Linked DNA regions of Homo sapiens. The protein of the gene in region 2 purifies or fractionates together with the protein of the main gene of each other region. This does not show direct contact. Each region holds a gene or a part of one and is shown on either strand. Other genes may lie near its edges.

Region 1 (4,440 bases), on a different chromosome or scaffold from region 2:
TCAGGTGTTTTATATGCGCTCAAACGAACCCAGGGAATTCGAGATCCATCTATAAGACAAAATATTGTCAGCAACCCTGGATTTGCTGCAGTTTGCGCTAGGAAACCATGACAGTTCTGAATTGTCTGCTTCCTTAAACTTTTTCAAGAGGTGAGTTTGGTTGTTTGATATCCTAAGGTTGTCATATGAACCCTTGATAAAGGAAATTAGGGGTGTACTCGACTCCATTCTTCGGTCTGCACTCCTGTGTAGCGAGTAGCAAGTATGCTAGAACACCTGAAACACATTTGCATGCTCCCTCCTCCCCTCAAAAAAAAAAAAAAAAAAAAAACCGTATTCAAACAGAAAAGAGGGATTGGGGCTTCCTCCTTTATGTATCTTCAGGCTTCATGCTGTTATTTGGTGACCTCCTTTTTGATTAGCACTTGTTAAGTTTCCTCTTATCCAATTACATTAGATTGTAAAAATGTTGCGGAGAGCACCCATGCCACCATATGTGTGGGCTTATCTACTCAAGGAATACCAGATCAATAAGAGAGCCAAATGGGAAAATTTTGTGTGAATTTTCAGATGTGTGGTACAGTGCGAGATCTGTGGGACTATGTGTTCCAAAACTCACTTAGTTTCTCTGGTGTCTTCAGACCAAGAATAGCCTAGGGTTATTTGACAGAGTAGGGAAGATCTATAGGGTATGGTTAAGTGCTTGAGCTTAGAGGCTGGGTGAAAAAGTTAGTTACCTGGGTTTGAATCTTCACCTAATTTCCAACTTTTGTTAATGTCTTTGGGCCTTCATATTCTCATATATAAAATGGGGATAGTAAAAATACCTATCTCACGGGTTGTTATGAGGTTTAAATAAGCCTCCCTCCCTACTCTGCCCCTCCTCATCTCTGCCTGCTCTTTCTCACTCCCCAGGATCTGGGTCATACACCGACCATCTCTTAGGAAGGAGTAAAGTAGGAGATAAAAACTAATCTTCATCTGATGTTCTTGTCCAATGTATACTGGAGTTTCCAGGTGTACAAAGCTGATTAAAATCTGAAGACCTATATTCTTCTTTAAACGTTGTTAATTAATCTTCATATGGCGTTAGCCAGCTCACTTATCTTGAAGCTTACCTTCCGCATCTTTTAAATGGGAATGATGCTTTTCCACTATCCATTGTATACAGGTTGTTCCCTCTGCTTGGGATTGTCTTTCTTCTTTACTCCACCCCATCTTTATGTCAGGAAGCTCCTACTCATCCCTCAAAAGCCTGCTCTATGTGATCTCCTTCCCAAAACCTTCTGAGACACTTCCAGTGCCATCTCTGGCCAGCATCTCTGCTGCTGGGGAACACAATTCCTTGCTCATTTCCTTATTATAGCACATTTCATAGAAATCATTTGTTCACTTCTCCTGTTAGATTGTGAGCTCTTTCAAGATAGAATTGATTCTTGTTCATTTTTAAAAAATCATCCCAGTGTCAGCACAATGCCTAGAACAGAATAGGCCTTTAGAATATGCCCTACCTCACAATGTTATCCTGTGGATAATTACTAGATATGAAAGTATTTTATAAATTATATACCTAAAAAAACTAGAAGGTGTTAGTATTAAGAGAAAACTGTATGAGTCTGCATCAGGAAGTTCATCCCTTTCAAAATCACAGTGCCCACTAAGCTTAGGTTTGAATTGATGCCAAAGTTGCCTTGTTAGGAAAAAGATTAAATTTTTCTTAATGCTCTGATTACTTATTATTAGGGCATTTGAATATTGTTACTAATTGGTCCTGGAGCTTGGAAAAGAAAATCTCATATTCATACTTTACACATTAAGTGTTTTAATTTGACATGACAGGTTTGAATAAAACCGTCTATTTAATTCTGTGAAGTATAAATCAAAACATTTTATTGACTATCCAGTAAAGTTGAGTGGAAGAGATTAAAAAGGGTGTATTCATGCTAAGAGTTCATTTTTATCAGATATTTGAAATGAGATGATGAGTTATTTAGGATGGAGGAAGAATCCATCTTTCAGATGGATAGAAACTGGGGAGAAAAGGGTTCTTTGTAAAAGTTCACAGAGCAGTCTGCTAATCATTTGCTCTGTGGAAGACGGGAGGTAAACCTCAGTGAGTTCATAGAGTTGTTTTTTTAAAACTTAGAACTCTTTGAATAGATCCTTAAGTGACTAATATAGCCAGAATAAAACCATCATTTTATCCTTTAATCATAGCTGCTAATCCTATTTCCTTGTTAATGTGCTTTATGAAATTATTTGACAATAATATCAGATTACATGTTTTTGCTACTAATAAAGTTCTATTCTCTTTTGAGAACTGCAAACAAAATGTTGTATAGTCATATATTCATGTAAGTTAAGCTTTTTATGTGTATTAAGACATTTTTATGGCATCTCTTTAGGTTTGTATGTAATTTTAGTTATCAAAAACCCCTATCTAAAGTGATAAACATTAAAAGTTTGTATCAGTACACATACAGAGAACCATAAATGACAAATTTGTTTTCCTGTCATTAATGACAATGACTTTGGGCAAATTCTTTAACCTTGCTGAGCCCGTATTTCCTTACTTGTAAAATTAGAGGTTTGGATATGGTCTTTAACATCCCTTCTACCATTTTGATTATTGCTTTTTAACTTGAACCATTTGCTTTAAGGCAGTACATCAGATGCTTTATTTTAGTGTTTAAATGTATTTAGTACACTTGTTTTGCATGATTCACTGTTTTAAAAATATTTAAGATTTATTAGATAAGAGCGTTTGAATTCTAAATTTTTTTTCTGTGACTGTTAATTAATTCAGCAGCACGTAATACATATCGAAGGGTCTGTTAAGAGACGCTAACCCACTGGACTGAAATGGGCCTAAGCTGTGAATCGGATGAAAGATCCTATTTTATCCTAAAGTCTATACTAAGCAATAGCTGTTTTTAGACATCTGTATTCTTAGACAATTATAGAAATTTAAAGCTGGAAGGTAGAGAACATGAAGGTAGAGAAAATAAAGGTTCTTACCCTTCATTTTACAAATGAAGAATCTAACAGAGACAGCAAGTGTCACACAGTTGATGGCCTGTTCGGCACTAGTCCACTATTATCAAAGTTCTTTCTAGAATGCTATATGAGATTAACTTATTACTATGAATGTTGCAAATGTACTACATTTAATACACAGAGATTATACTACTTATCTGTTTATATATTGAGAGGTGGTAAGATTTTCACTGTGCCGTCTACACACTCTTAACTGTTCCTTCTTAAGAACTTTGTGAAGTGGTTAGGATTAGTGATGAAACTATGGTTATGACCTAGGTGGAGATTGAACCTGGATGTTTAGTTACTTGTGCCATGGTCTACCTCAGCTATTTTCAGTTCTGACTGTCTGTCACCATCACCTGTGAACTAAAAAAATTATGATGCCCAGACTGTACCCCAGACCTACTAAGTCAGAATTTCTGGTTTCAAAAGTTCCATAGGGGGTGATGTTGGGCAGCTAGGATAGTGAATTTCTGCTTTTGTCACAAATAGATTAGCCACATACCCTACCTAAATGATGGCAACCTGCTGTGCTATCATTTAAAAGGTATCAGTAGAAAGGTTGGTATAGTTACAGTGAGATTTTAGTTTGTTTGCATATATATTTGATATATTAATTCTATTTGATTAGATAATATGAACACTTGGTACAAAATTCAAGAGGTACAAAACAGTATATACATTGAAAAGTATTCCTTCCTTTCATTATCTTCTAGCCATTCCCTCCCAAGAAGCAAGCATTACCAATTTGTTATATCCTTTTTGTTGTGTGTTCTTCCAGAAATTAAGCATTTACAAACATAAATTTATGTGCACTAATATATTCCTTCCACCAACATACAAATTATAGCAAAATATATACATTTTTCTGTATCTTGCTTTTTTACACTTAACAACATAGCTTGAAGATTTTTTCACATTCACATAAAGAGAGATCTGCCTTATTTTTTAAACAACTGCATAATATTTCATCATTTGGCTGTACCACAGTTTATTTAGCCAGTCCCCTATTAGTTGACACTTAGGTTGTAAACAGTCATTGCTATTACAGACATTACTACAATGAATAACCTTGTAAGCATGTCATTTTTAATATGAGTGTCTTTTTGTAGGATACATTTCTAGATAGATGTTAAATTGATGAATTGAAGGATATGTGCATTTTTATTTTGGAAAGACAATGCTAAACTATAGCAATTTAAGCTCTCACCAGCAATGTATGACTGCCTATTTCTTTATACCCACGTAGGGTGTATTTTAAAACTTCTTAATCTTTACTGGTCTATGAAATAAAAAGGAACATTTAATTTGTAGTTTTAATTTGCACTTTTAAATGAGAGTGAGGATTGCTCTGTCACCAGGGCACGATCTTGGCTCACTGCAACCTCCGCCTCCCGGGTT
Region 2 (5,553 bases):
GCCCTTCAACCGCTTTTACAATAATTTGGGCTAGGCGTTCAGGGCTCCGTAGGACCCTTCCTGGCAGCCAAGTGAGAGAAAGAGGAATGATGGTGGAATGGGCCTCTCCTGTGCTTCCCATTACTTCCACACTGTCGAAATAGAAATAGAAGCAGAAAAGAACACCCTACAAGTCCCACCCATTTGGAGGCACTCAACTCACAGTGACAACCCTCCACACCTCTCCCCTGCAAAAAGACGCAAAACAAAAACACCTACTCCAAACTGTGTCCTTACATCTCAGCCCCGAAGATCAGGATTGTGTGCAACTTCGGCCCAAAGGATGCATTTCCCCAGGGTTGAAAGTTTGAGAAAGAGGCTATATTCTGAAGAGTTCTTGTTGTCACCATCAAAAGGATTAAAAAGACGCAATAAATAAGAAAACAGCGTAGTTGGGGGGCATGCTCCATTTGAGCCAGAAAGCCTTGGAAACTTAAGTGTTCTCAAACGGAACGCCATCCTGCTTTGGGGGAACACGGAGGCTGCCTTGCAGTCACGTGATCGCACAACACCAAAGGGCCACGCACTCTGATTTCACCTACTTAACTAAAAGTTGCAGCAAAATCCCTATTACAGGCCAGGCGTGGTGGCTCATGCCTGTAATCCCAGCACTTTGGGAGGCCGAGGAGGGTGGATCATTTGAGGTCAGGAGTTGGAGACCAGCTTGGCCAACATGGTGAGACCCCATCTCTATTAAAAATACAAAAATTAGCCCAGCGTGGTGGTGCACGCCTGTAATCCCAGGCACCCTGGAGGTTGAGGTAGGAGAATCGCTTGAACCCAGGAGGCGGAGGTTGCAGTGAGCCGAGATCACGCCACTGCGCTCCTGCCTGGGCGACAGAGTGAGACTCCATCTCGGGGGGAAAAAAAAAAAAAAAAAAAAAAAAAATCCCTATTACAAATAAAAGCTGTTGTGATCCAGACTGCATATACCTCTGCGAATGGAACCAGAACCGTGAATTCCAATGCAAATCGATGCATCGGCACCAGACCCGCTGCACTGGATGTATCTGCATTGCAGTCACCCGAGTACGGAGCACATCATAGATGATCTCTGCAGGTTCGTTGCCCACATAGGAGGCATAGCGCAAATTTCAAAGGAACGAATACATCCTGGAGCCCAAACAGCTATCTGGTTCTGCTGCTGGCCTCCTGACAAGTAGGTAAGAGAGTCACATTTTATAGACGACGGACACCAAAACCACACATGAGGAGTACAAGAGTAGCTTTATCATGGATTTAGGGCTGTGGTTACAAGGAAGCTGTAAGGAATAAAATGACTCCCATGAAGACGTACCGTGCGGACGAGTGGAAGGAGAAATTTGGCCATTACAAAGACACAGGAATATGTTAAGAAGTGAGGGGCAGGATGAAATCATCTAGGGTAGGTATTTAGAGGGAGGGCGCCGTGCAAAATAAAATCCTCACTATGAAACAAAGGCGGAGGCAGGAGGCTGCGTTAGGTGGAAGCAGCGGAGGAAGGAGACGAAAGGGATTGTCATTTTCATGTCGTGGCTTTTTAGAAGACAGCCATGTCCTCTACTCTGATTCTATCAAAATGTGTTCTCGGGGTGCTGGTAACGTTCAGCCAACGAAATAATTCCTATGGCGGCAGTAGGAATAACAAAACGCAGAAGCGGGAACGATGTCTTTTTATTCCTCCCCAGACGCAAACGTGGATGCATGAGGTTTGGTAACAGGCAAAGTCATCTGGTTAACGTGACTGATGCAAAAAGTCCAGGCCTGGGCAAAAAGAAGTCACTGGGTGAATGGGATGGATCAGACTCCCTGTCCTGAGGGGGAGATGGTTTCTTGCAGAACGAGGTGAAGGAGGTGGTTCTGCTCAGCAGTCAACAGTGGCCACATCTCCACCTGCAGCGACTTGATGGCTTCCGTGTCCTTTTCGTGGGTAGCCATGACCAAAGACTGGAGCAGCAGAAAGAGCTCCTCGGGAAGCTGGCCGCTGCTCTCCTGCCCGTGGCTGTCAAAAGCCTCCCAGGAGTACTTCTCCAGGGTCTGGGCGTGCTCCGGCAGCAGCTTGGCGGGCGGTGGTTGCAGGAGGAGCAGCAGCAGCACGCGGGACACCTCGCAGCGGACCAGCACGTCCGAGAAGGCGCCCAGGGCGGCGGGAGAGGGCGCCGCCGAGCCGGAGTTCGGAGGAAGCAGCGCGGCCGGTAGGGCGGGCGTCGCCCCGGGCCCGGGCTGGGGTGCCGGCGGCGGGGGCGGCGGCAGTGACTGCACCGGGTGGCTGCCGTGCTCCCGCGCCAGGCGCTGCATGCGCGTGAAGACCGCCAGGGCGCCGGTGTAGTCGCGCGCCAGCAGCTGGCAGGAGGCGGCCTCGCCAAGCGCCTGCAGCGCGGCCAGGGGCAGCTGGGGCAGCTGGAGCTGGGCGGCGCGCTGGAAGTGACCGGCGGCGGCGGCCGGCTGGCCCAGGTCGCGCAGGGCGGCGGCCAGCTCGAGGCAGAGGGCGGCGGCGGCGGCCGGCTGGCCCAGCTCGAGGTGCAGACGCACCGCGGCGCCCAGGGCGCTGGCGGCGGCCTGCAGCGGCTCCCCGTAGGCGGCGGGGCAGACCAGGCGCTGGCGCGCGTCGCGCTCCTGCCGCAGGAAGAGGCGGGCGGCCTCGGTGAGGGCCAGCGCCTCCCCGGGCCCGTGGAAGAGCGCCTGCTGGCAGCGCGCCACCGCCAGCTGGCACCAGGCCGCGTAGGGCAGACACTCCTGGGCGCGCAGCTCCCGGCCCAGCTGTCCGAACTGCTCGCCGGCCTCCGCCACGTTCGGCTTCCGCAGGAACCGCTTCTTCAGCTTGTTCGATACCAGCCGGTAGCGGGCCAGGAAGTCCCCGGCCTCGGGTCCCGGGCCGGCGCCGCCGCCGCCCAGGCCTGCAGCCGCTGCCGCCATGCTCGCCGCCCCAAGCACTTCCCGACGCGCCGCCGCAGCTGGCGGGCGGGCCGGGGCGGGGCGACGTGCCCTGCGTCCCCCTCGGCGGGCTGCCGCCGTGCCCGCGCCGGCTCCCCAGCCCGAGCCTGCCCCTTGCCCTGATGAGGTGCAAAGAGCGGGATCGGAGGCGGGGCCTGGCCGGGCTGTGAGCGGCGTATGCAAATCGAGGGTCTCGGGGATGCGGATCCAAGACCCTGGGAAGGTACGCGGGGCCTGGCGGGGCACCAGCTGCTGCTAGCTCGGCTGCAATGCAAGTGGTCTAGGTTGCTAAAGGCATCCCACAGCCTCTCCATCTGAACATGACCCAAACGAAACTCGTGACCCTAATTCCATGTCTGCGCATTTCTAGACTGTTGTCCCCCCCCCCCCCCGCCCCGACTACTCAGTCCTCCGTCTTCCGGTCCAGGGCCCCTTGCCAAGCACCGGGTCCACCTCTCCGTCCCCACCCCGGTTGCCTTAGAAGTCCGTCCTGTCGCAACACTGCAGTCATGGTCTTGAGGCCCACCCGCCCCAACGAACACCATCATGCTGAGGACTTTCCCGGGCAGGCCCTGACTTGCTCAGAACCAGCGGGGGTGTCCCCTTCCCACCCAGGGCCACTCCCCTGCACTGTCACCCGGAGAGACTGCTCCTCTGTGCCATCCCTGGCTCCCACCCAACCCCAGACCCCCACCACCTCTCCATCCCTCCAGCTGTGGAGGTCTCACAACCCCCCAACCCATCTCACCGCCCCCCCACCCCCACCCCAAGGCAAAGTGACTGAAGCGGGCAGATGGCTTCCTTGAAACATTTTATTGACAGAATTAATGAAGGCCCAAGACTTTGGGGCCTGGGTTGTGGGGGGAGGGTGTTTAAGGCCGGGGGTTCAGGCCGGGGGATTTGGGGCCGGGTGGGTGGACGAGTGGACCTGTCAGGTCCCAGGGGCCGGGTGTCAGAAGCTAGTCCTCGCCAGGGGCCACTTGAGAGATGGTGGTCGTGTTGAAAAGGGTGCTCAGTAGCCTGTCGTTGTGAACCACCATGTCCAGCAGCAGGGGAGTGATGTTCCGCTCTCCGCTGTTCTGGGCCTCGTTGCCCGCCAGCTCCGGGACCTTGGCCGTCAGGTACTCAATAACCGCAGCGAGGTAGACCGGCGCCGTGCGACTCAGGCGCTGAGCGTAGTGGCCCTCCCGTAGACTGCGCTCCACCTGGCTCACTGAAAACGAAAGCTCCGCTCGGACGGTGCGAGAGCAGGTCCGCCCCCGGCCGCCAGCACCGGAGGACCCTCGGCGTCTCCTCCTCCTCGGCATGCTGGGCGTTGAGTGTGCTATCTCGGCTTGGCCCAGCTAGGCAAGATGGCTCTCAAGAGGACAGTTACCGCGTCCAGTACTGTGTATCCTAGCGACCAGGGCCCAGCCCCTCATTGGCTAGGGAGCCGAGACCAATGGGCACGCACATCCGGCGACGGGCACGCATGTGGTGACGGCCCCTCACAAGGGACACACGTCCGTCAGGTGACCTCATCACTTTCCCATTGGCCTCGAGGGAGCAGGCCTGGGCCTAGAAGTGGCTGGAGGGCCGTGGGGGTGGGGTGGGGCGGGGCAGGGGGAATCGCGCTGGTGACCCTCTCTTTGCCAGTGGGAACTTTCCCTTTCTACTGGATGGGAACACCGTGGGAAAGACAAAGGGGTGGGCGAGGGGAGGACGGGTACCACGCCTTCACAATGTTGCACATCCATCACGACCACCTAGTTCCAAAACGTTTTCAACACCCCGAAAAGAAACCGAAACCCCTGTACCTATAAGCAGTCACTTGCCGCACGCCTCCTTCCACACCACCACTACCAGCCCCCACACCCTCCCACACACACCCCCTGCCCCCGCCCATACACACGTTCCCGATAGTCCCTGGCAACCCCTAGTCCATCTGCTTTCTGTCCATAGAGGTTAGCCTGTTCTGGAGATTTCCTATAGATGGAATTATACGACCAAATGTGAGGCCGTGTGTGTCTGGCTGCTTTCACTTAGCGTAATGGTTTCATCAGGGTGCATCCATGTAGAGGCATGAATCACTACTTCCTTCCTTTGAATGACTGAGTACGATTCTGTTGTATGAATAGGAGGCCACATTTTGTTTACCCACTCGTCAGTTGATGGACAGGTTATTTCCCCCTTCTGGCTATTGTGAGTGGCACTGCCATGACCATCTCTCTACAGGTTTTTCTTTGAATATCTCTTTTCAGTTCTTTTGGGTCTATTTCTAGCAGTCAAACTGCTGGCTCGTGTGGTAATTCTGTTTAACTTATTGAGGAACCACCAAACTGATTTCCACAGCAGCTGTAATCTTTCGCATTCCCAACAGTAGTGCATGAGAGTCCCAATTTCTTCACAGCCTCATCAAAACCTGTTTTCTGTTTGCCTCATTTTGTTTTGTTTACAGTAGCCATCCTACTGGGTGTCAAGTGCTATCTCATGGTGGTTTTCATTCGTATTTCCCAAATGGCTAATGATGTTGCTGTGGTTTGAGTGCATCCCCCAAATTGTGTGTCTTGGAAACTTAATCCCCAAATTCACATGTTGATTGGAGGCGCAGCCTCTGAGACG

The links.
Region 1: the proteins of F8A1 (region 2) and RASA2 purify together in Homo sapiens (affinity purification with mass spectrometry, with the first as the bait; one large-scale study listed by BioGRID). This does not show direct contact.

The regions. Positions count from the first base shown.
Region 1 is NC_000003.12:141,490,027-141,494,466, forward strand, and holds part of RASA2 (ras GTPase-activating protein 2), read left to right. Parts: intron 1-4,440. UniProt on the Homo sapiens protein: Inhibitory regulator of the Ras-cyclic AMP pathway. Binds inositol tetrakisphosphate (IP4).
Region 2 is NC_000023.11:154,883,756-154,889,308, reverse strand, and holds F8A1 (40-kDa huntingtin-associated protein), read right to left. Parts: upstream 2,955-5,553; 5' UTR 2,935-2,954; coding exon 1,819-2,934; 3' UTR 1,248-1,818; downstream 1-1,247. Other genes in the region: H2AB1 (histone H2A-Bbd type 1), read right to left, coding at 3,912-4,259.